Regions from separate parts of the Homo sapiens genome. Here all the other regions are linked to region 4. The links come from fine-mapping of genetic effects on gene expression. A gene starts in region 4. Each other region holds a variant in brackets. All regions are shown on one strand. Distances are between the middles of the regions. Region 1 has its middle 5.2 kb from the start of LINC01932. Region 2 overlaps IL12B (interleukin 12B). Region 3 has its middle 24 kb from the start of IL12B. Region 4 holds the start of UBLCP1 (ubiquitin like domain containing CTD phosphatase 1).

The links. PIP is the estimated chance that this variant, and not a neighbour inherited with it, causes the effect.
Region 1: its variant is the best candidate, but not a certain one, in a credible set for the expression of UBLCP1 in whole blood (INTERVAL, PIP 0.67).
Region 2: its variant is the best candidate, but not a certain one, in a credible set for the expression of UBLCP1 in lung (GTEx, PIP 0.69).
Region 3: its variant is the best candidate, but not a certain one, in a credible set for the expression of UBLCP1 in whole blood (TOPMed, PIP 0.88).

The regions. Positions count from the first base shown.
Region 1 is chr5:159,219,624-159,225,380 of GRCh38, forward strand. No RefSeq gene overlaps it. Among named protein-coding and RNA genes, the nearest start is that of LINC01932, 5.2 kb to the right of the region's middle. The variant C/T (reference allele first, on the strand shown) is at 3,241.
Region 2 is chr5:159,313,137-159,318,673 of GRCh38, forward strand. IL12B (interleukin 12B) reads right to left here. Exons shown (of 8, transcript NM_002187.3): 7 at 3,549-3,680; 8 at 1,644-2,964. The coding sequence ends at 3,549. It overlaps LOC105377683 (a long non-coding RNA gene), which reads left to right. Exons shown (of 3, transcript XR_941138.3): 3 at 2,082-2,340. It also overlaps the pseudogene RNU4ATAC2P. Among named protein-coding and RNA genes, the nearest start is that of IL12B, 15 kb to the right of the region's middle. The variant G/A (reference allele first, on the strand shown) is at 3,702.
Region 3 is chr5:159,303,569-159,309,325 of GRCh38, forward strand. No RefSeq gene overlaps it. Among named protein-coding and RNA genes, the nearest start is that of IL12B, 24 kb to the right of the region's middle. The variant C/A (reference allele first, on the strand shown) is at 2,797.
Region 4 is chr5:159,261,055-159,266,811 of GRCh38, forward strand. It overlaps UBLCP1 (ubiquitin like domain containing CTD phosphatase 1), which reads left to right and starts at 2,236. Exons shown (of 11, transcript NM_145049.5): 1 at 2,236-2,306. RefSeq lists enhancers at 1,461-1,968, 1,803-1,872, 1,903-2,212, 1,969-2,476.

The sequences.
Region 1 (5,757 bases), 41 kb before region 4:
CCCACCTCGGCCTCCCAAAGTGTTGGGATTACAGGCGTGGGCCACCGCGCCAGGCCCCTGTGAGTTTTCTTTGATGTCTGATATGGTTTGGCTGTGTCCCCATCCAAATCTCATCTTGAATTGTGGCTCCCATAATTCCCACCTGGGAGGTAATTGAATCATGGGGGCAGGTTTTTCCCATGCTGTTCTCGTGATAGTGAATAAGTCTCACGAGATCTGATGGTTTTATAAAGGGCAGTTCCCCTGTACACCCACTCTTGCCTGCTGCGATGTAGGACACGCCTTTGCTCCTTCTTCACCTTCCGCCATGATTGTGAGGCTCCCCCAGCCATGTGGAACTGTGAGTCCATTAAACCTGTTTTTCTTTATAAATTACCCAGTCTCAGGTATGTCTTTACTAGCAGCATGAGAACAGACTAATACAATGTCTCCACATTGTTTCACAAAATAAGAACGTTTGCTTTGGGTCATAGACTTCTGAGTAGAGTGTGGCTAATTAATTACTCTTTCTAAATGGGAAATGGAGGTGGCGGCTAGGAGAGTGCAGACTAGAGTTACTCTAACTGGGTTCAAAGCCTGGCTCTGCCTCTTACCAGCTGTGTGACCTTGGCCGAGGTACTCAACTTTTCTTTGCCTAATTTCCTATTTAATAACACCTACCTCACAGGATTTTGTGGTCAGATGTGTCATTATACATATAAAGTACTTAGAACAATGTCTTGCACAAGGAAAGCAGCATTGCTATGGTCTGAACGTTTATGTTCCCCCAAAATTCATATGTTAAAATCTATTATTCACTGCAATAGTATTAAGAGATGGGGTTTCTGGGAGGTGATTAGGTCATGAGGGCTCTGTTCTCATAAATGGAATTAGAGGCTTGAGGGAGCTTGTTCGCCCCTTCTGCCATGTGAGGACACGTAGAAAGCACTATCACCAGGAACAGGCTGTCACCAGACAACCGTTGCTGCCTTGATCTTAGACTTGCCAACATCTAGAACTGTGAGCAATATATTTATATTGTTTATAAATTACCTTATCTAAGATATGTTGTTATAGCAGCCCAAGCCAGGATAAGCACTATCATAATTGTTATTATTATTATTTTTGGCTTATCATGCTTATACCTTCACTATTCAAAGATACTAAAGATACTATCAGTCAGTATTTACTGAGCACATATTCATAGCATCTGTTAGATGCTAGGTGCCATATAAGTGAATTAGAACACACAATTCCTGCAGGTGCTAAGTGTGATGTAAATGAACCAGACCATAATTTCTGCCTTCAAGCCTGTTATGACCCAGTTAGATAGATGGACCTACGTATGCTGCCATGTTATAAAGCTGCATGATACATATTTTATCCCTTAATTGATTATAAACTCTTTCTGGCATGAGCCACAGTTTCTTTCTTTTTGAATCCCTCGCTCCTTCTCTCTTCCACTTAGGAGATTGTCTATAGTATGTCTTCAGCTAATTTGTCATCAACTTCCAAAAAACTTATTTTATTTGTTTCCTTTTTTTTTTCAAGACAGTCTCGCTTTGTCACCTAGGCTGGAGTTCAGGCACAATCTCGGCTTACTGCAACCTCCACCTCCCAGGCTCAAACAATTCTCCTGTCTCAGCCTCCTGAGTAGCTAGGATTACAGGTACCCGCCACCGTGCTCAGCTAATTTCTATATTTTTAGTAGAGATGGGGTTTCACCATGTTGGCCAGGCTGGTCTCAAACTCCTGACCTCAGGTGATCCACCTGCCTACTAGGCCTCTCAAACTGGTGGGATTACAGGTGTGAGGCACTGCACCTGGCTGCAAAAACCTTATTTTCAATAAACTTTCCTGCTGACCACTCCTATTAAGGTTCTGGTGCTTTCTTCATAGTGTCTTTACTCAAGTGTTCTCAGCATCAAGCTTCCAATCCACTGACCCTACCAGCTCTTTACATCTTCTCCTTATGTCCTGCCATCTCTCTTCACCCACCATAAGTTCTATGGTGTGTCATTTAAATGTGCCACTTACAAGGATTCTTGGCTCTCTGTCTGCTCTGTACCTGCACCTGAGTGGCTGATATTGCTGGATAAATCACACAACCAATCACAAATCTCAAATCTGAGCCTTCAGGCCCACTCCACAATCCCACTGCATTGTCCTGGTACATTTGTTTCCCACTCCCAGAGGGGCATGCTCTGCTGTCTTCTCAAACCTTCCACACCACCCATCCTCTCTCTTCCACTATTTTCAGCTGAGTGAGTAGCTGAGAAAATCAAAGTGATCCATCAAATCCCTTGTCTATCCACCATGAAATGACCAGAACGTAGCGGTATTTTAGGCCTTCTTTCTTGTACCGTGGTAGAGGTTCCCTGGCTTCAACAAAAGATCAGATTCTCCACTAGCAATCTGAATCTCAGCCTCTTGTTTTTTTCCAGCATTTAGAATCTGAAATAAATCCCTCTTTCTCATACCATCAAGTCCCCTCTCTACTGGGTCATTTCCACTAGCATAGAAACATGATTAGAATGGCGGTTGTTTAAAAAATGTGTCCAAACACGGTGGCTTGCACCTGCAATCCCAACACTTTGGGAGACCAAGGCAGGAAGACCGTGTGAGGCCAACAGTTTGAGACTGGTCTGGGCAACCTTGTAAGGTCCCATCTCTAAAAATTTTTTTAAAATTAGCTAAGCATGGTGGCACACACCTTTAGTGCCAGCTATTGAGAAGGCTGAGGCAGGAGGACTGATTGAGCCCAGGAGTTCAAGGCTGCAGTGAGCTATGATTGTGCCACTACATTCCTGCCTGGGTGACAGAGTGAGACCCTGTCTCTTAAAAAAAAAAAAAAAAATCCCCCCCTTGAATTTTGTGCCTCACAACCTTCACCTCCACTTCACTACAAAAAATATCCTGAAAAGTTGTCTATCGCAACTGCCTCAACTTCCTACCTTTTATTCTCCCCTTAATCCATTCCAATCAGAATTTAACCCCAAATATTTCACTGAGAGTTTTCTAGCAAGATCATGAAAGACTTCCTCACCAAATCCAGTGGTCCCTTGTCAGTACTGATCTTATTCTACCTGTCACCAGCCATTTCAAAGAGTTGACCATCTCCCCACCTCTTTTTGTTTGTTGGTTTGTTTTGTTTGAGATGAAGTTTTGCTCTTGTGGCCCAGGCTGTAGTGTAGTGGCACAATCTTGGCTCACTGCAACCTCCACCTCCCGGGTTCAAGCGATTCTCATGCCTCAGCCTCC[C/T]GAGTAGCTAGGATTACAGGCATGCACCACCACGCCTGGCTAATTTTTGTATTTTCAGTAGAGATGGGGTTTCACCATGTTGACCAGGCTGGTCTCAAACTCCTGACCTCACGTGATCCACCTGCCTCAGCCTCCCAAAGTGCTGGGATTACAGGTATAAACCACCACACCTAGCCAATTATCTCCCCCTTTTAAAAACATTTTCTCCTCCTGATTTTTGCATTAGATGCCTAAGGCTGCTGTAACCAATGACTACAAATTGAATGGCTTAAGATAAAAGAAATTTATTCCCTTACAGTTTTGGAGGCTAGAAGTTCAAAATCAAGGTGTCAGCATGGCCTTGTTCCCTCTGAAGTCTTTAGGAAAGAATCTTTCTTGACTATTCCTAGCTTCTGGTCACTCCTGCCAATCCTTGGTGTTCCTTGGCTTGTAGCTGCCTCACTCCAATCTCTGCCTCTGTCATCACATGGCCTTTTTGTAAGGACACCAGTCATTGGATTCAGGACCCACTGTAATCAGTATGACCTCATTTGAACTTATTAGATCTAACTAATCAGGTCTGTAAAGACCCTATTTTCAAATAGGGTTACATTCTGAAATTCCAGATGGGCATGAATTCTGGGGAGAATACTGTTTAACCTGCCAGTTTCGGTGACTGCATGCCTTCCCAGTTTTTCTTCTATCTCATTAGCTGTTCTTTCTCACTCTCATTTGAGGGCTACTTTGTCTTAGCTGTAAATGTTGGAGTGACCCAAGGCTTGGCTCAGGGCCCTTTCGCCTTCTGTAAACACACTGTCTCCTGAGGGGATATCGTCCACTCCCATGGTTTTAAAATTCCACTAATGACTCCCAAATTTGTGTTCCAGCCCTCAGCTGTACCCTTAGCTGTGTCCAAATCCCAGCCTCCTATTGATGATAGTAGTTAACACTTATTGGACACTCCCTATGTACCAGACCCTGTCTTAAGGTCTTTATATGTATTAACTCATTTAATCCTCACAAGAAATTTACAGGGTGAGTACTGTTTTTATCCCCAATTCATAGATGAAGCAACTGAGGCACAAAGAGGTTAAGTAAATTGTTCAAGCCTACATAGGTGGGAGCCAGGTTGAGTCCAGAGTCTGCTCTTTTCACCACCACCTGTTCTGCCTTTCCTCTGGGATCCAGGCTTATATATCCCAACACATACTCAACATCTGCACCCAGATGTCTAATAGGCATGTTGGAGGTGAATTAAATAGAACATTGGACTCCTGCCCGTTACCTCCACCTTAATCTTTCCTTTCCTGGTCCCACATCTCAGCATATGGCACCACCAACCCAGATCTAGAAGTCAAGTTCAAATTTGATTCTCCTGTTTCCCCATTTACCCTAGTCTTCATTCCCGTGCCCAGCCAGTCCATCAGCAAGCCCTACTGGCTTGACCTCAAGCATAGGTCTCTAATCTGTCCACTTCTCTCCATTTTCACTACCATCCTAGTTCATGCTGAGCTATCATTTCATGTTACTGCAATTAAATTCTAGTCTTTTTGCTTTCACTTTTTTGGTCTATCCCTAACCCAGTGGCTAGATACATTTCTGAAAGATAATCAGACCATGACATGGCCCAGTTTCAGAGCCTTCCAGGTGTCCCTTATGTTCAAAATGCATACTCCTGTTCCTTGCCCACAGGGCCCAGCCTGACCTGGCACCTTTGCCTCTCTGCTCTCCTCTCTTACCACACTCCTCCTTAGTTCTCCAGCTTGAGTCACAGGCTTCATTTATGCTTTTCCAGGAACCCCAACCCATGCTTGCATCAGGCCCTCTGCACCTGTTCACTCTCCTGACAAAAATGGTAGCAGAAATGCTCCATCCTCACATCTTCCCTTCATTCAGACCTTGGCTCAGACATCACATGCTCAGACAGGACTTTTCTGAATCACTGCTTTTTTTTTTTTTTTTTTTTTCGAGACAAGGTCTCACTCTGTCACCCAGACTGGAGTGCAGTGGCACCATCTCGGCTCACTGCAACCTCTGCCTCCTGGGTTCAAGGATTCTCCTGCCTCAGCCTACCAAGTATCTGGGATTACAGGTGTGTCCCACCATTCCTGGCTAATTTTTGTATTTTTAGAAAAGAGGGTTTCACCATGTTGTCCAGGCTGGTCTTGAACTCCTGACCTCAGGTGATCCGCCCAACTCAGCCTCCCAAAGTGCTGGGATTACAGGCGTGAGCCACGGCACCCAGCCTAGGACTTTCCTGAATCACTATCTAATGTTGTTCTGTTGTCCCCTGATCACTTTCTCTCACACACTGTCCCATGTTTTTTGTTTGTTTTTCCTTTGAGACTGGGTCTCGCTCTGTCACCCAGCCTGGAGTGCAATGCCACAATCTCAGCTCACTGCAACCTCCACCTCCTGGGTTCGAGCAATTCTCCTGCCTCAGCCCCCCCGAGCAGCTGGGATTACAGGCACCTGCCACCATGCTCGGCTAATTTTTGTATTTTTAGTAGAGATGGGTTTTGCCATGTTGGCCAGGCT
Region 2 (5,537 bases), 52 kb after region 4:
TTTTTTCTGCTCAAGAGAGGAGGATGGAAGGAAAGGGTGATGCTAGACATGGCTCTGTCTTTCATCAGAAAAGCCAAAGCTTCTCAGCAACCCTCCCAGCAGAATTTTCTTATATCTCATTGGCCAGAACTCAGTGTTTTGGCTTTGCTGGGCAACAAAGGTGGCTGAAAAAGTGGTCGCTAAACTTACCAACATTTAGAGCTGAAGAGGGCATCGGGGAGAAAACAGTTGGGAATGAGTATTGATTGGAAAACCAGCAGGCTGTTTCCAACACCCTGCTCAAGGTCACAAGTCTGTTATGTAACCATAGTTGGGACTGGAGTCTGCTCCTCTGATTCCCAGTCCTAAGATCTTTGGCTTAGACATTTAGTACATTTTGTAGTGGCTAGATTTACAATAAAAAGGACAGTCCTGGAGACTATCTTTAAAGAAGAAAAACTCTGCATTGCATGCACTGAAATTAATCGAATGCTAAGAGGTCATGTCGCAAAAGCACTGGGCATGGTGGGAGCCAGAACATCTCACCTCTGCCCCAGGCTGGCCAGAAATTTGGGGAAAGGTCCCAGTTCTCAGTGCTTATGAAATGTGATTAGTTATTTATTTTTTAAAAATCTGGTTAGTGTTGTTCATTAAATGTCCGTTAAGTACTTTGGTAACTGCAGATGAAAGACCCTGTAGGGGGACAAACACTTGTTATTAACAACCATATGCTGTCAAGTGTGGGCTTATAACACGGGACCATATGCTCCAAAGGTTGGCAAAGAATGACAGAAGCCACCCACCATTCCTCCAGGCCAGGAGCAGAGTGGCATAGGGCTCCAGGGGACACTGAAAATCAGGAATGTAAACAAACACCCCTATTATAATTACCCTGCCATTGCAAGGAAGCCTGAATGTGCACACTTGGATTTTTGGGATAGCAGGAAATTGGACTGCATTCCCTCTGATCCCACCATCTCCTCCTTCCATGGGAAGCACCAAGGGGAATTTGCAGGCCCTGCCCATTCTTTAGCCCAAAGTTGGCACCCTCTCTTCTCTGATGAGTCTTCCTGGATGGTGCTGGGTTACACAGATCCTTCTTTTTCATTCTCACCCCAGGCTACCATATATCCTGAACATTTTAGCGTGTAATGATAGTGAAGTTAACTTTTCATCCTGCCTTATAAGCAGTGTTAGGAGTGGGCACTGTTTGGGAGACACAATGCAAGGCTTTTTGAAACTTCCCAACCCTGAGGGCTAGCACATGTCCATATATACGGCAAACTCTCAATAAATACTAGAGCTGGACCTAAGAGCTGAGATGTCCATGGCTGTACCAGGTTAGAGTTTTATTTCATGATTCTTGGGATACCAGTAGAGTCGATTCCAGGATAGAGGGTGGAATAAGTGAGAGCTTCCACCCCTAAAAAAGGCACAATGCAGTTCAGTGCCCTTGCAAAGGATCCTTCCTTGTCAGATTACAGGGACATCCCCTGAGCTCAGGAAGACACTGACTTTGGAAATACTATAAGGGGAAAGAGCAACTCTGCAAAATTTGGAATGGGATCACTTCAAGAAAGGGCAATGCTTAAATGATAGGGGAAAAAATGCACCCCTGGTAGACTTGCAAGCAGAGTACTCAAATCAGCTGAGAATGCCCAAAATATGATTACAAAGAAGAGTTTTTATTAGTTCAGCCTCAGAATGCAAAAATAAATAAATAAATAAACAAACAGGAAACAAATGTAATCACTTTACAGAGCGCACATACATTACTTAAAAGTAGCACCTTCATGGAGCCATATTTTCTGGTCATAATTGTGTATCAGGTTCATTCATGCTAATGAGAAAGGGATTCCAGATTTTCTTTGCATCTGTCTGCTTCTCACAGGGCTGTTAAGAAGCCACCTGCCATTCTGACAATTTCATGTCCTTAGCCATAACTACTTGTCCTCTCTCTTGAATCTTAAGATCTTTTTGCCTTCCAGACACTTACGGTGTTTCTGTGTCATCCTCCTGTGTCTTTTAGAGAGGTGGGGGTGAGGACTGCCATGGAAGCTAAAGCTGAATTTTAATTTCAATCATTTTTTTTTTTGAGACAGGGTCTCATTCTGTCACCTAGGCTGGTATGCAGTGGCACAATCACGGCTCACCATAGCCTTGACCTCCTGGGCTCAAGAGATCCTCCTGCCTCATCCTCCTGAACAGCTGGGACCACAAGCATGAGCCACCACGCCTGGCTAATTTTAAATTTTTTTTGTAGAGACGGGGTCTTGTTATGTTTCCCAGGCTGGTCAATCATTTTTTTCTAGCCCTTTTAAAATTCAGGCATCCAAAGATTAAACTTGCTTAGAAGTGTAAGTGGCCCTAAATTGCTTTATCAACACCATCTCCAGGAAGTCTTCACAGACATGGGAACTAGCATCTTGTTCTCCTGGATCTTCTCAACAGGTTTGCATTGTCAGGTTTCCATGTAAGTATCTCTTGCGTTCCCATCCATCACAAGTGTATGATGGCACTGGTATCAGAACACTGCATTCTTCCTGATTGTCATAAAACTGATGTACTTGCAGCCTTGCTTGAAAAGTTGTCAGTACAAATAAAATTAAATTCACATTTTGCATAATAGGGACTGATCCTGATGGATCAGGTCATAAGAGTATGAAACATTCCATACATCCTGGCAGACAAACGTTAAATAACAGTAATATACTAATAAATACATAAATTACTTAAATATTTAAATAGCATGAAGGCCCATGGCAACTTGAGAGCTGGAAAATCTATACATAAATTAGCTGATTGTTTCAATGAGCATTTAGCATCTAACTATACAAATACAGCAAAGATATCATTGTGATCCTAAAAAAACGTTTTAAAGCAAATCAGATAGAAATTATCTTTTTGGGTCTATTCCGTTGTGTCTTTAAACATTTTGCTTAATATCTTCCACTTTTCCTCCAAATTTTCATCCTGGATCAGAACCTGGAAGAGAATGCCAAAAGTTGATGTGGGGTGACATTGTAACAGCAATGTCTCTTCTTATTTCTCACAACATATGATCCTGGGCAACTGGGTTTCAGGGATTTCATGCCAGAAGGCCCAGGCCTTCCTTATGTGGCCTGGAATTTGGCTGGCACCATGCTTGCCAGAGGCTTTCTTGAGGGTTTTCTTAAAATAATATCTGATTGTGTTACTTCCTTGCTGAAAACCCTTCAGTGGGTTTCAGGGCCCGGGGCCCCCAGAACAAGATTCTGAGTCCTGCAAGCTTGCAAGTCCTCCATGCTCTGCCTCCTGGCTACCTCTCTCTTTTCTTTGCCTTTCTCTTTAGGAGGCCAGAACCCCGGTCTGTTTTCTTTCCTGCAATATCCCTGTGGCCAGCACAGTGTCCTACATAACAAAGGCACCAAATAAATATCTGTTAGTGAATAAATGTATGTTTCTGATTCTGGCAACTGGGTGCTGGCCACTCCATCCCCCTTTCCTCTCCAACACAGCCCCCAATCATATCCCTGCATCCAGGTGCACTGAGAGTGCAGGCCTGGGCTGGCCTTTGAGGGCCTGCTCACCTAACTGCAGGGCACAGATGCCCATTCGCTCCAAGATGAGCTATAGTAGCGGTCCTGGGCCCGCACGCTAATGCTGGCATTTTTGCGGCAGATGACCGTGGCTGAGGTCTTGTCCGTGAAGACTCTATCTTTCTGCAAAAGAGAAGGAAAGCT[G/A]TGAAGACCCCTTGGCAACATAGTCACAGGGTAAGCTGAGCCTGTTTCTGCAATGCATACTCTCCCAAAACAAGCCCATCTTGGTCTTAGGGCACTGTGCTTGCAATTCACAGGGGTGTGCATAGAACTTGCACCACCTACTGGCAGACACTCCACATGTAGGTGCAGCTTTTGTACTTTGTAAGCCCTTGAGGGAGAAATCGTTTGGCCCAGCTTTCATCTTTCTAGCACAATTGCCTTGCCTCAAGACCCCATGGCCACTCACCCAGTCCTGAGCTGATGGTGAGAGAGAGACAGATTTGCTCTAGCCATCCCTGAGATATTGAGAAATACCATATCCTGATCATTTCATCAGAAAACTTGCCTTCAAATTCTGGCACTGCTACTTAATAGCTGTGTAACTTCAGGAAAATGTCTTAGGTTCTCTGTGTCTGTTTCCTCACTTATAAATAGGGATAACAATAATGCCTACTTCATAGAATTATAGTTCAAGGTAAAAATCACGTCAAACTCTTAGCAAGTCTTTAGCACATAGGAAGCACTCAATATCACCTATTAGTCATACAGATCTTAAATAGGGAAAGTACTTGCCAAGATGTAAAATAATATTTAGGTAAATATCTATTCCAGGATAGCCTCCCTACCTAATTATTTTCCCAGAGAGTAACTAGCTCACTGAATTTCTACCACATGCTAAATGCTATGCTGAATTAGGGCTTTGTCCAGTGATTTTAAAAGTGGGGTGAAAGGAGTCTGGGGCGGTACAAAAGGGCCTCTGGAACCTTGCAACAGGCAAAGGAATTCTGCTGTAAGGTGAGGAAGCTGGGAAGCCAATATCTTAGCCTCTATAAGTGTAGACATTCTGTTTAGTAAAATAATTTTATAATATCTGGAACAGCCAGGAGCTATCCATTTTGGGGGCGATATCTCTTGCCTGTTCTATCATTCATTACATGCACTCAGTTGAAACAACAATTTTAGGCTTCTGGAGCCCAGGTCTCCTCTATCAGGACTAATTCTGAGTGCCAAGATCAATGACCAACATCAGAGGTAGTGGAGTGGTTAGGTGCATGGCCTTTCTGTCTGGCAGATTGAGTTTATGTCTTGGTTATGTCATTTCCTAGCTGGGTGACCTTGGTAAAGTCACTTAACCTCTCTGAGTCTTCAATCACTTGTGAAATGATGATAATACTACTGGCTACCAACCATCCTTTTCTTGGGGTTGGGCTACTGTCCAATGAGCACGTAGTGAGGGCAGTGCTGCTAACACCTACACAAAATTCCTGCATCAGCTACAGCTTTACTTTACCTTGCCACAGTTTCTGGAAAAAAGGAAAGCCTCTTTTCCACAAAAAAGGGGGTAAAAAAACAAGAATAACATCAGCTACCTTTGTTGCGTTAATTTTGTAGATTAAGTGAAATAAACATGGAAAACCCTTGGCACAGCTCTAGACACATAGAAAAGTGCTAAGAAAAGTAATTATGCATCACATAATAACATTTCAGTCAAAGAAGGATCACATATATGACCAGTGGTCCTATATTGTTATAATATTGTATTTTTGCTATATCTTTTCTGTTTAGATATACAAACCATTGTGTTGTAATTGCCTACAGTATTCAGTACAGGAACATGCTGTACAGGTTTGCAGCCTAGGAGCAATAGGCTATACCATAAAGCCTAGAAGCGTAGTAGGCTATACCATCTAGGTTTGTGTGGGTACACCATATATGTTTGCACAATGATATAGCTGCCTAAAGATGAATTTCTCAGAATGTATCCCTGTTGTTAAGTGATACATGGATGTCATTGTTATTATCATCATTCATCTTCTC
Region 3 (5,757 bases), 43 kb after region 4:
AAACAATTAGCTGTCACGTAAACTAATAGAGCAAGAACTCACTCATCACCAAGAGGATGGCTCAAGCCATTCATGAGGGTTCCACTCCCATGACCCAAACAGCTCTCATCAGGTCCCACTTCCAACATTGGGGATCAAATTTCAACATGAGATTTGGAGGGACAAATATGCAAACCATATCAGGTGTTGATGGTGAAGGGGTGCTGTGTTTCTTTTTGGGGTATTGAAAATATTCCAGAATTTATTGTGGTGATGGGAGCACAACTCTGTAAGTGTATAAAACCTGTTGAATTAGACACCTTAAAAGAGTCACTTGTAGAGTATGTGAACTATACCTCATTACAGCTGTTAGAAAAATGTATACCTTGGTGGTCAAATTGTAGTAGCTAGTGGTGGCTTCAGTTTGCGGAGTTAGAAGAGTAAAGTCAAATATGAGGGTTTTTATATTTTGGGTAACTTTTTCATTACCTAAAAGTGAAATTTTCTCTTTTTGTGGATCTTAGGTGGAATGTAATGTAAGGGAGAAAACCTTTCTCTCTACCCTCTTAAGGTTTGATCATTGAGTCTGGGAAGTAAATAGACAGTAGATAGATTAACAGGAAAAAACAATTTTAATTATGTGCATAGGCATGGGAATCTCACAAAAGATGAGACTCAAAGAAGGGCTAGATGATTAAAGTTTATATAGCATCCTGAGCTACAGAAAGGAATTGGGGCTTGGAGCTTAATTTGGGGGTGGGGCATGACACAAATTATGGGAGGGAAAGGAGAGGAAATGCATGGTGAATAAAAGTTGTCTTGTTATGCAGATAAACAGTCTCCAGAGTAATAAAGGTTGTCTTGGAGCACCCCTCAGAACAGGTGATAGTTTGTGATAATGTCTGGGCTTGGCAATTACCTTCAGTCTGTTCTCCTCCTGTGATACAGTTAATTTTTCCTAATTAATGAGATTCCTGGGGAGGAAACTCATGGCAATTGAGTGCCTTTTTGGAAGATCTATCTTTAGGCAGACGAGGCAAGTTCAGAGACCACCCTTCCCTGTGCTTTTGAAACAGGGGTGAGAGACAGCAGGGCAGAAGTTCAGGGAGGCTTTTTGGTTCTCCCTTAGTTCAAAGCACTCTGCATGAAAGCCCCAAACTTTGGGGTATCATTTTCAGAGCCCCAACAGTAAACTTACAAATTTGCCTATTTGTGTAGACTTGCCTCTTGAGGGTCAGTAGTCAGTATTTTTCTTACTCAGTGAAATTTCAAAATTTACAGAATTGAAATCACTCGGACTTAAATTTTAAAATGTACTTGTGTAAAGAAGATACATATAGTAAAATCCTTTGAAAGCAGACATTGAATCTTTCTGAAAAATGATAGGACATTTGCAGTTTTTATGTGATGATCTAGTTAAATCCATTTGATTTCTTCCCCCTGTTCTGCCTTCTCTTACTGTCCATTCCTCTTCTGGTAGAAAGAGTTGACTGCCTGTGTACAGGTGGCAGAGTTGTTTTCTGTTCATCAGAGTCAGTAGTAGTAAAATTCAGTTGCTGGATTAGCCAAGTGTGCTCTGAATTCTGACCTCTTCAATACAATAACATTTTGCATGACTAAGTCTGTACAGTTTGTTCCAAAACATTACCCTGCAAAGCAGTCTGCAAAGCAGCTTGATCCATGCTTGGACAGCCATCCCCAGCTTGGTCCTCCAGGTTTGTGGACAAGGATCTGGGACACTGAGGGCTTGTAGAGAGTAGATATGGATTGGATTAAGCACAAATGGCAACCCTAGACTACACAGGAAAGTCGTAGTCGGCCACACCTTGGGCTTCCTATGACAGCAGCATATCAGTGCTAACGAGCCAGGGCTTGCAAGCCAAGGCACACCAATGCATTTGCAAACTCCAGAGTCACCATAAGAAAGTCATTTATTCCAACGCTTGTAGAGAGAGGCTGCTTGTCTCTAACAGTATATGTGCAGTGTTGAAAGTAAATCTTTAGATAAGTTAAATTTAACCAAATTTAATTGAGCGAAGAATGACTTGTCAATAGGGCAGCTCTCAGAACCAGCAGAAGTTGAGAGAACTCTGCTCCCCGATATGGGCTGACAGCAAATGAACAGAAAATGGAAGTGAGGTACAGAGACAGCTTGGTTGGTTACAGCTAGGTGTTTGCTTTATTTGAGCATGGTCTGATCAGTTGGTAACCTATAATTGATTGGAGGTTTGCTGCTGTGTTTTACTGCTGAGGCTCAGCTATTAGCTACAAAAATATATTAAATTAGCTTTCAGTCAGTTCATACCAAGTTAGGTTGCATGCAGTTCATTACATAGGGACTCAAGGTATGGAGTCAGCCTCAGATCAAGTTTAGATTAATTAAACAGTGGAGAGAGGGCAGATGTCAGTTTCAGAATCATGGCTGATTGGAAAATGTTTTCCCTTTCTGGACTTTTTGGGTAGGGAGACCTTTCCTTCTCAGATCCTCCAAAAGGCCTTCCTATCTCCACCAACAACAACTCCAAGAAATGTCTTTTTATTTTTAAATACATGCTCAGAGAATACAGAGAATCCAAAAGAAGGAATTAAAAAAAAGTAACAAACTAAGACATAGTCATTGTCACTACTTTGGTATATGTTAATGCTATCTAACAGAAGTAGAAGGTGAATGACAAATATGAGTCATATATTTAATTAAAAAATTTAATGTAGCCAGGTGCAGTGCTCTTGCCCATAATCCCAGCACTTTGGGAGGCCAAGACGGGAGGACTGCTTGAGCCTAGGAGGTCAAGACCAACCTGAGCAACATAGTGAGAA[C/A]CCCCAGCTCTACAAAACAAAAATACTGTACTCCCATTAAAAAAGGTTTAAAAAGGTGAAATTAATGTTAATAATACTTTAAACTTGATATATATTATTTTATCATACAATCAACTTAAAAATTATTATTATTATTATTATTTTTGAGACGGAGTCTTGCTGTTGTTGGCCCGGGCTAGAGTGCAATGGCATGATCTTGGCTCATGGCAACCTCTGCCTCCCGGGTTCCAGCAATTCTCCTGCCTCGGCCTCCCGAGTAGCTGAGTTTACAGGCACCTGCCACCATGCCTGGCTAATTTTTGTATTTTTTATTAGAGACAGGGTTTCACCATGTTGGCTAGGCTGGTCTCGAACTCCTGACCTCAGGTGATCCACCCACCTCGGCCTCCCAAAGTGCTGGGATTACAGCTGTGAGCCACCGTGCCCAGCAACTTAAAAATTATTAATAGGATATTTTACATTCTTTCATACTATCTTTGTTTTTTATTATTTTATTTTATTTTAGAGACAGGGTCACCCAGGTCGGAGTATACTGGTGTGATGATAGCTCACTGCAGCTCGGACCTCTCAGGCTTAAGCAATCCTCCAGCCTCGGCCTCCCAAGTAGCTAGGACAACAGATGTGCACCACCATGCTGGGCTAATTGTTTTGTTTTTTGTAGAGACAGGGTCTATATGTTGTCCGGCCTCTTTCATATTGTCTTTGAGACCCAGAGTGTATTTTGCATGTACAGCACATCCCGCCATGTTTCCAACTGAGGTGCTCAATAGCTGTGGCTGGCGCCTATTGTACTGACCAGCACAGATGGATATTGTTGTGAATCTTTACCCCAAATTTGGTTCAGATGCTATACCAAAGGAGGGCACACCCAGGCTTTCTGAGCAGCTTGCCCAGGTGTGGGTGTGGTGCAGAGAGGTAAGAGAGAGAGGCAAGGCTTAAAAGCTGTCCACAGTTACACATCAAAAAAAAGGAGTCAGACTCTATATATACATTATATTAATATTTATATCTATCTATCTATCCATCCCTATATCAGACCTCAAGGAAATATATTCAAAACTACATGTTGAAAAAATTAAGCAGAGAGAAGTAGATGGGAAGGTACTAAAAATGCAAGACTTAGCAAAAGAAGGCTGTATATATATAGCAAAAGGGGACACACAACAACCCCTCCCACTAGCAAATGCAGCCCAATCATTGCCCCTAAAACAGAACCTTGCACTTGCTTCTCCTTTCCTGAAATGCGCCTCCTGCCCCAAGGCACACAGCTTCTCCCTCACTTCTTTCTGTTCTCTGTTCAAATCTCACCACACCTACCTCTTCTGAGGGGCTTTCCTTGTTCATGCTATCTAAATTAGAGGTTCCTCTGCCCCTGTGATTCTTAATGTTACTGCAAAGCAGCTACCACTTAAAGAATTTGTAGTCTATCTCCCCTGAATAAACTGGAAGCTCAAAACGGGGGAGTTCAGGTCTGTTTTGTCTGCTGGTTTGGCCCCAGAATTTAGAAAAGAGGCCGGCACACAGTAGATTCTCAGTAAAATAGTGTTGAGTGAATGGTTGCTTAGGAGAAGGAAACAGGGAGGGTACTTGGAAAAAAGGAGCAAGAAGGCCACCATTGGTGAGAATAAGTGTTTTATAAAACACAGGTTATGGTTTTCCTTCTTTAAGAAAAGTAGTTTTGTTTTCAAGTGCCAAGAATAACATTAGGCTACTAAGGATTTCTGGACTGCTTTGGGGTTTGTTTTAATGAATAGATGGAAATTACATCTATTTAGCATTAATTTTTATGTGTAAGTGGGTACACCCGAATTGAATAAAAGCAGTTCTCTTGAATAATTAAAACATCCTCTTCACCCTGCAAAGCATTTAGCACACTCCTCTCCCAAAAATTCTATTAATGGCAACTAAAATCATAAGGTTTAAATGCAAAATAAAGAAGGCATTTTTCTTTATGGTGGCACAGAAGTGAATACCTCAAAACCGGGCAGACCCGAGAGTCAGATACCAAGGGTTCTGTGGAGTCAACATGATGGTCTCTGATAACATCAAAAGTTAGGAATGTTTTACTAAAAAGAATATAGGAAGAATAAAGAATTCTTGTTTACAGTAGAATTCAAACTAATAAACATAGAAAGAAGGATAGAAATAGAAAATCACCATTAGGCGAAATTACTGTTGCTTGCAAGCAAGTATCATCTACGTATGACAAAATCTGTTGGTAGAAGTATGATGAGAAAAAGGGTACTAACATAGTCTTAAAGGGTCTCTCCACAAGATATATTAATTCCAAAAGAAAAAAAGAGTACTACAGGGGAGAACACTGGTGGACAGACACAACCTAAACAAAGTGATCAAAGTTAATTTCACCAGTACTGAGAGACATTGATTTCATGCCCCTCCTGATGAGATTCACTGAGAAGGGCACAGTATTACTGCTGTAGGATGCTTGACAAAAATGTAGAACCCAAATTTAATCATGAAGAAACATGAGACAAATGTCACTTGAGGGACATTTTACAAAATAACTGCTCCTAGCTCTTCAAATGTGTCAAGGTAATGCGTGGTTAAGGAAGACCAAGGAACCTTCCCAGACTTGAGGTGATTATAGGGCATGAAACTAAATTCAGTGTTGTGTCTTAGATTGTATCCTGGACGAGGAAAAGCACATTGGTGGAAAAATTAGCAAAATTTGAATAAGGTCTATCTATTAGGTAGTAGTATTGATCAATGTTAATTTTACTGTTTTGGATAACTATACCAAGTTTATGTTAACATTAGAGAAACCCGGTGATAGTAATATGGGACTTCTGTGAACTATTTTGGCCATATTTTTCTAATTCTGAAATTAATTCAGAATGAAAAGTTGAAAAGAAAGTATCTTTAGTTGGCAATCTTCTGGGAATTTGAACAGGAACTGCCAAAATGGGAGTCAGGAGACCCAGGCTCAAGTTTGAGCCCTGG
Region 4 (5,757 bases):
GGGAAAGCATGCTGAATAGAGAAGGGCAGTAACTGGGCATGCTTCATTAAGAACCTGTATTCTGTCATGTGGGGCAGATTCTAAATATTTTCAGCTCTCTTACTGCAGGCAAGATAAAGGCAAAGGAGTAGGTATTAGAAGAGAGAGACAAACTTCTAGAGGGAACTAAATTTTTGAAGAGGATTGTCTTCCAACTGGGAAGAGAGGGAAAGCTTTTTGAGGGGAGTAGATCTGAGCTGGGCAAGAGAACACACTTGCTAGAGAAAGAAAATGGCCAGAGAGAGAAAAGGGGAGAAAAAAGTCTGGGGGAGATGGAGATAAAAGCAGAGTAGTGGGGGATTTCTGGCCTAGGTGCAGGAATGTCCTTTTATCTTCCAAAGTAAATGTGGTCACAGTAATATTAACAGTTTGTCATCTGATGTTGTGAAATTGTTTCCATATATTATTTAGACTCTCAGACCTGACAATCTATGGAGGAATTCCCAGGCATCTTTAGCTGCTACAGAGATGCATGAATGAAGGACAAGTATATTATCCTCCACACATTAGAAGAGAGGCTCCAGGGAGCAACAGGAGGCAAAAGTTCTTCTTTTCTTTTTTTTTTTTTTTTTTTTTGAGATAGTCTTGCTCTATCACCCAGGATGGAGTGCAGTGGCATGATCTTGGCTCACTACAACCTCCACCTCCCAGGCTCAAGTGATTCTCATGCCTCAGCCTCCCGAGTAGCTAGGGTTAAAGGCACATGCCACCACACCTAGCTAATTTTTTTTATTTTTAGTAAAGACTGGGTTTCACCATGTTGGCCAGGCTGGTCTTGAACTCCTGACCTCTAGTCATCTGCCTGTCTTGGCCTCCCAAAGTGCTGGGATTACAGGTGTGAGCCACACTGTGCCCGGCCAACATTTATCATTTGTGTTGAGACTATCCCAACCTTTCTCCTCTATTTTGAAATACAAAATAAATTATTGATTACTATAGTCACCCTACTGTGCTGTGGAACGCTACAACTTATTCCTTCTGTCTAACCATATTTTCGCTCCTTTTAACTTCTCTTCATCTCCTTCTCCCTCCTTATCCTTCCCAGCCTCTGGTAACCACAATTTTACTCTCTATCTCCATGGAGTCAACTTTTTTTTAGCTCCCACATATGAGCACCAAACTTCAATGTAAGACCCAAAACTATGCAGCTATTCCAAGAAAACGATTTGAGAAAATGCTTGAAAATGTTGGTCTGGGCAATGATTTTTTTTTTTTTTTTAATTAAGACTTTCTGAAGAAAAGGGCATACTTTTCACTGAAAAAGTTTGAGTTTTTTAAATGAGCAGATACTCATGCATTACTAGTGCAGCCAAAAATTATCAAAAGTAGGGAAGAATGCAAAATAGCGTGTGCCTCTTAACTAAAGAACTGTTAAGATACAAAACTTGGCTCTTTGCTGCCTTTCCCGCACTGCCAAGAGGGAAACATGAATTAGTTACATTGCCGTGGTGCTCACTGGGAGTTCGCTGTATGGACCAGATGGGTACTGCTCCGAATTTCCATTCAAGTCTGACATTCTTTTGTCAGCGTTTGTGTAACCGGTTTTCCTTGCATTCAGAGGAAAGACAGCATGGAAGTATGGATGGGAAGGTTGAGACGATTGGATACTGTATGGTAACCTCGATCGCAGCTCTCCTATGAGACTTGCTTCTTGGATTCTGAGTCACTTAAGCTTGCCCCTTCTCTTTCCTGACCCTCTTCCGTTTCCCCTTAGATTGGAGATTCTCCTCAGATTCTAAGTCTCTGAAATTATTAGTGTTGGCAGCCCCTGGGCCCATGGAGGGGTCTCAAGTCTTCAGTTCTCAAAGATCACCTTTTAAGCTTCATTCGGAACATGACACAGCCACACGAGTCCTAGCCCTGAATCTCACGAAGACCTCAGTACACCTGGAAAAGGCAGCACACCCAGTTACGACACTACTAGAGACGTCACACGCCTCAGCACCCATCCGCTCCCAGCCCAGAACGAGCGCACGCGCAGAACGAGAGAGCGGCCACCCAGGGATCGGCGCTATCTGCACAGCGGTTACAGTCTCGGAAAGGCCTGGCTTCTTCGTGGCTTTGTGGAGATCCCTTACAGCGGCCATTTGATTAGCACCCGAAGAGATTCAAAGGAAGCAGTTGTTCCGTCCCCAACATATTTCCGTTTCAAACCACCCACTTCCGGTTTTTCAGCCGGTTCCGGTCCCGCCCTTCACTTCCGGTCGCTTTCGGTCTCTCAGCGGCCGGTTTCTGCGTCCGCTGCCGCAGGTTCCACCGCGCTCCAGGTGAGGGGTTGCGGGGCACCCTGGCGCGCTGCCCTTGGAGACGCTGTTGGGGCTCGGGGACAGTGGCTTTGCGGCCCGCGCGGCGTGGCTTGCACTGCGGCGGGCTGGGGATAGTGTCTGTCCTAGTCTGACGCCCAGGCCCCTAGCCCCGGCCCGCTTAGTCGCGGGGGCCGCTGTCCTCCCATCCAGCAGTCTAGCCTATTTGGAGGGCTTTCTGTTTCCCAGTGGGTTTTGCGTCCCCAAACTTCATTCCTCCGTCTTCTCAGGCTTGTCCATCCCTCCCCTCAACCTCCTTGTTGAAGGCATCCCGGCCTTTTTGGTTCTGGAGCCTCCACCTGCCTCCTAATGCTCCCCTAAGTCAGTTAGCACAGCCCCCGACCCTGCACCACCTCGCAGTTGTTGCTGGTGTGCGGTTCTCGCCGGAGTTCTTAGTGCTTCACGGTTATCTTTTGCTGGGATTGTTGAAAGTTAACCTCCCGTTAATTCCCAAAGTGTTACTTTTACTGCTATACTTTAAAATTTCTTCATTTGCCACTTTTTAGGTTTGTGGTCCCGGGCAAGTTTAATTTCTTTTCAGGATTCTCATTTGTATAATGAGGACAACAGCTGTTGGTTCAGGATTGTGAAGCTTCAATGAGATAATTGTTTAGCATGTTTTTATTCCATCATGAACACCATTTGTATTGTGTTTTACAGTTTACAAAGTGCTGTCACAGGTGTTACTTCATACCTTAACACTACTCCTGTCCAGTGAATATTAGTAGCCTCATCTTGTTGAGAAGACTGAGGCCAAGAGGTGGATTGACTAGGCAAAGTCAACACAGTATGTTAGGTAGAACTCCAACCTAAACAGCTATTCTTGACCCTAGGTTGACCATATGGAAGTGTATTCTTTGCTTGCTTGTTTGGGTTTGCCAACTTCACTCCTCCCCACACCCCAAATCATTTTTCAGCTTATAAATCTGATGGGATCTGAAATGATACAAAATACTAAGAAAGAAGGTTAAATGTGAAAGCAAAATAGCTCATGCATTTATATCACACTGCTTCATTGGTGTGAACGGTCTTAATGATGAAATAAGGTTCAGTAACTTTTAAACAAATCTTAAAGACATATGCATTTACAATTTTTATGGTGTTTGTTTCGCTTGGCCCTTTAAGGCATTTGCCAACTTGGAATTTCCACTTGTGGGATAGGTGCTTCGTAACGTTTTTATGCTGCTTTATTAACCATATAGAGCCCATGCCCTCTGGCACATTTTTTTTAAGGCTGAAAACATTGAAGAGCCTGTAGTACTGACTCTCAAATTTGAGCATTCATCAGAGGTGAGGAGGACTGACCTTGTTAAAACACAGATTCCTAGGTCCCTTCTCTCCACCCCAATTACATTTCTACCAAATTACCAAGTGAGGTCAATGCTGTTCGTTAGCCCAGGGACCATGCTTTGAAAACCACTAGTCTAGAAGAGCAATCACTTGTCCAGGGTCACCTGGAACTCAGATGATTTCACTCCAAACTCTGCACTACTACGCATCACAATATATGCGATATTAGTGCTGGTTGCCTTTCTAGCTCTCGTAGGATTCCCTTTTATTCTTATGTCTTACAGAAAATATTTAAACTGTATTTCAGTTTAACTCAAAAGGTCCACTTTTAATTGAAGAATATAACATTTGTTATAGTTCTGTCTAAAATGGAATACGTTACCCTAAATTAAGACACTTGCTTTACATTTTCAGTAGAACACATTGTAAACATAGGAGTAAATATACATTTATAGTTCATATTTGTATTCATATATGAGTAAATATAAATATGAATTTATGGCTCTCTCTTCTAATTGGCCTTTTAGTAGGAGACACTGTTTTTAAATTATTTTTGGAAGTGGAGATTAAAAATTTAACCTCTTTCTTGCAGTTGGTCCTAATAGTTGCATGAAGAGTGCAATCAAATGTTTCATCAAATAAGTGAAAGCATTGGAAATACCAATACCTTGAGATTAGAAAATCCAGTTCTCTGGACTGTGGGAGGAATGAGTTTAATGAAAAATAGAAAGCTTTATGCAGGAAGAGACATATGTTTGGTTATTTACATGAGTGGCAGCCACTATATAATCTTTGTGTGCTTAGATCTGTACCCATGGGTTTTGTATTTTCTGATTGATATGGTTTGGCTGTGTCCCTACCAAAATCTCAACTTGAATTGTATCTCCCAGAATTCCCACTTATTGTGGGAGGGACCCAGTGGGAGGTAATTGAATCATGGGGGCCGATTTTTCCCGTGCTATTCTTGTGAATAAGTGAATAAGTCTCATGAGATCTGATGGATTTATCAGGGGTTTCCGCTTTTCTGTCTTCCTCATTCTCTCTTGCCACTGCCATGTAAGAAGTGCTTTTTACCTTCTGCCATGATTCTGAGGCCTCCCTAGCCATTGTGGAACTGTAAGTAGCTGGGATTACAGGCGCCCACCACCACCTCTGGCTAATTTTTTTTTGTATTTTTAGTAGAGATGGGGTTTCACCACATTGGCCAGGCTGGTCTTGAACTCCTGACCTAAGGTGATTCACCTGCCTCAGCCTCCCAAAGTTCTGGGATTACAGGCATGAGCCACTGTGGCCAGCCTTGGGTATGTCTTAGCAGCATGAAAACAGACTAATACGGTAAATTGGTACTAGTAGAGTGGGGCATTGCTGAAAAGATACCCGAAAACGTGGAAGCAACTTTGGAACTGGGTAACAGGCAGAGGTTGGAACAGTTTGGAGGGCTCAGAAGAAGACAGGAAAATGTGGGAAAGTTTGGAACTTCCTAGAGACTTGTTGAATGGCTTTGCCCAAAATTCTGATAGCTATATGAACCATAAGGTCCAGGCTGAGGTGGTCTCAGATGGAAATGAGGAACTTGTTGGGAACTGGAGTAAAAGTGACTCTTGTTATGTATTAGCAAAGGTACTGGCAACATTTTGCCCCTGCCCTAGAGATTTGTGGAACTTTGAACTTCAGAAAGATGATTTAGGGTATCTGGCAGAAGAAATTTCTAAGCAGCAAAGCACTCAAGAGGTGATTTGGGTACTGTTAAAGGCACTCAGTTTTATAAGGGAAGCAGAGCATAGAAGTTTGGAAAATTAGCAGCCTGACTATGCAGTAGAAAAGAAAAACGCATTTTCTGTGGAGAAATTCAAGCTGGCTGCAGAAATCTGCGTAAGTATCAAGGAGCCTAATGTTAATCCCCTAGACCGTGGGGAAAATGTCTCCAGGCTATGTCAAAGACCTTCATGGCAGCCCCTCCCAGCACAGGCCCGGAGGCCCAGGAAGGAAAAAAGGTTTCGTGGGCCCGGCCCAGGGTCCCCGCGCTGTGTGCAGCCTAGGGACTTGGTGCCCTGTATCCCAGCCACTCCAGCCATGGCTGAAAGGGGCCAACTTACAGCTTGGGCTGTGGCTTCAGAGGGTGGAA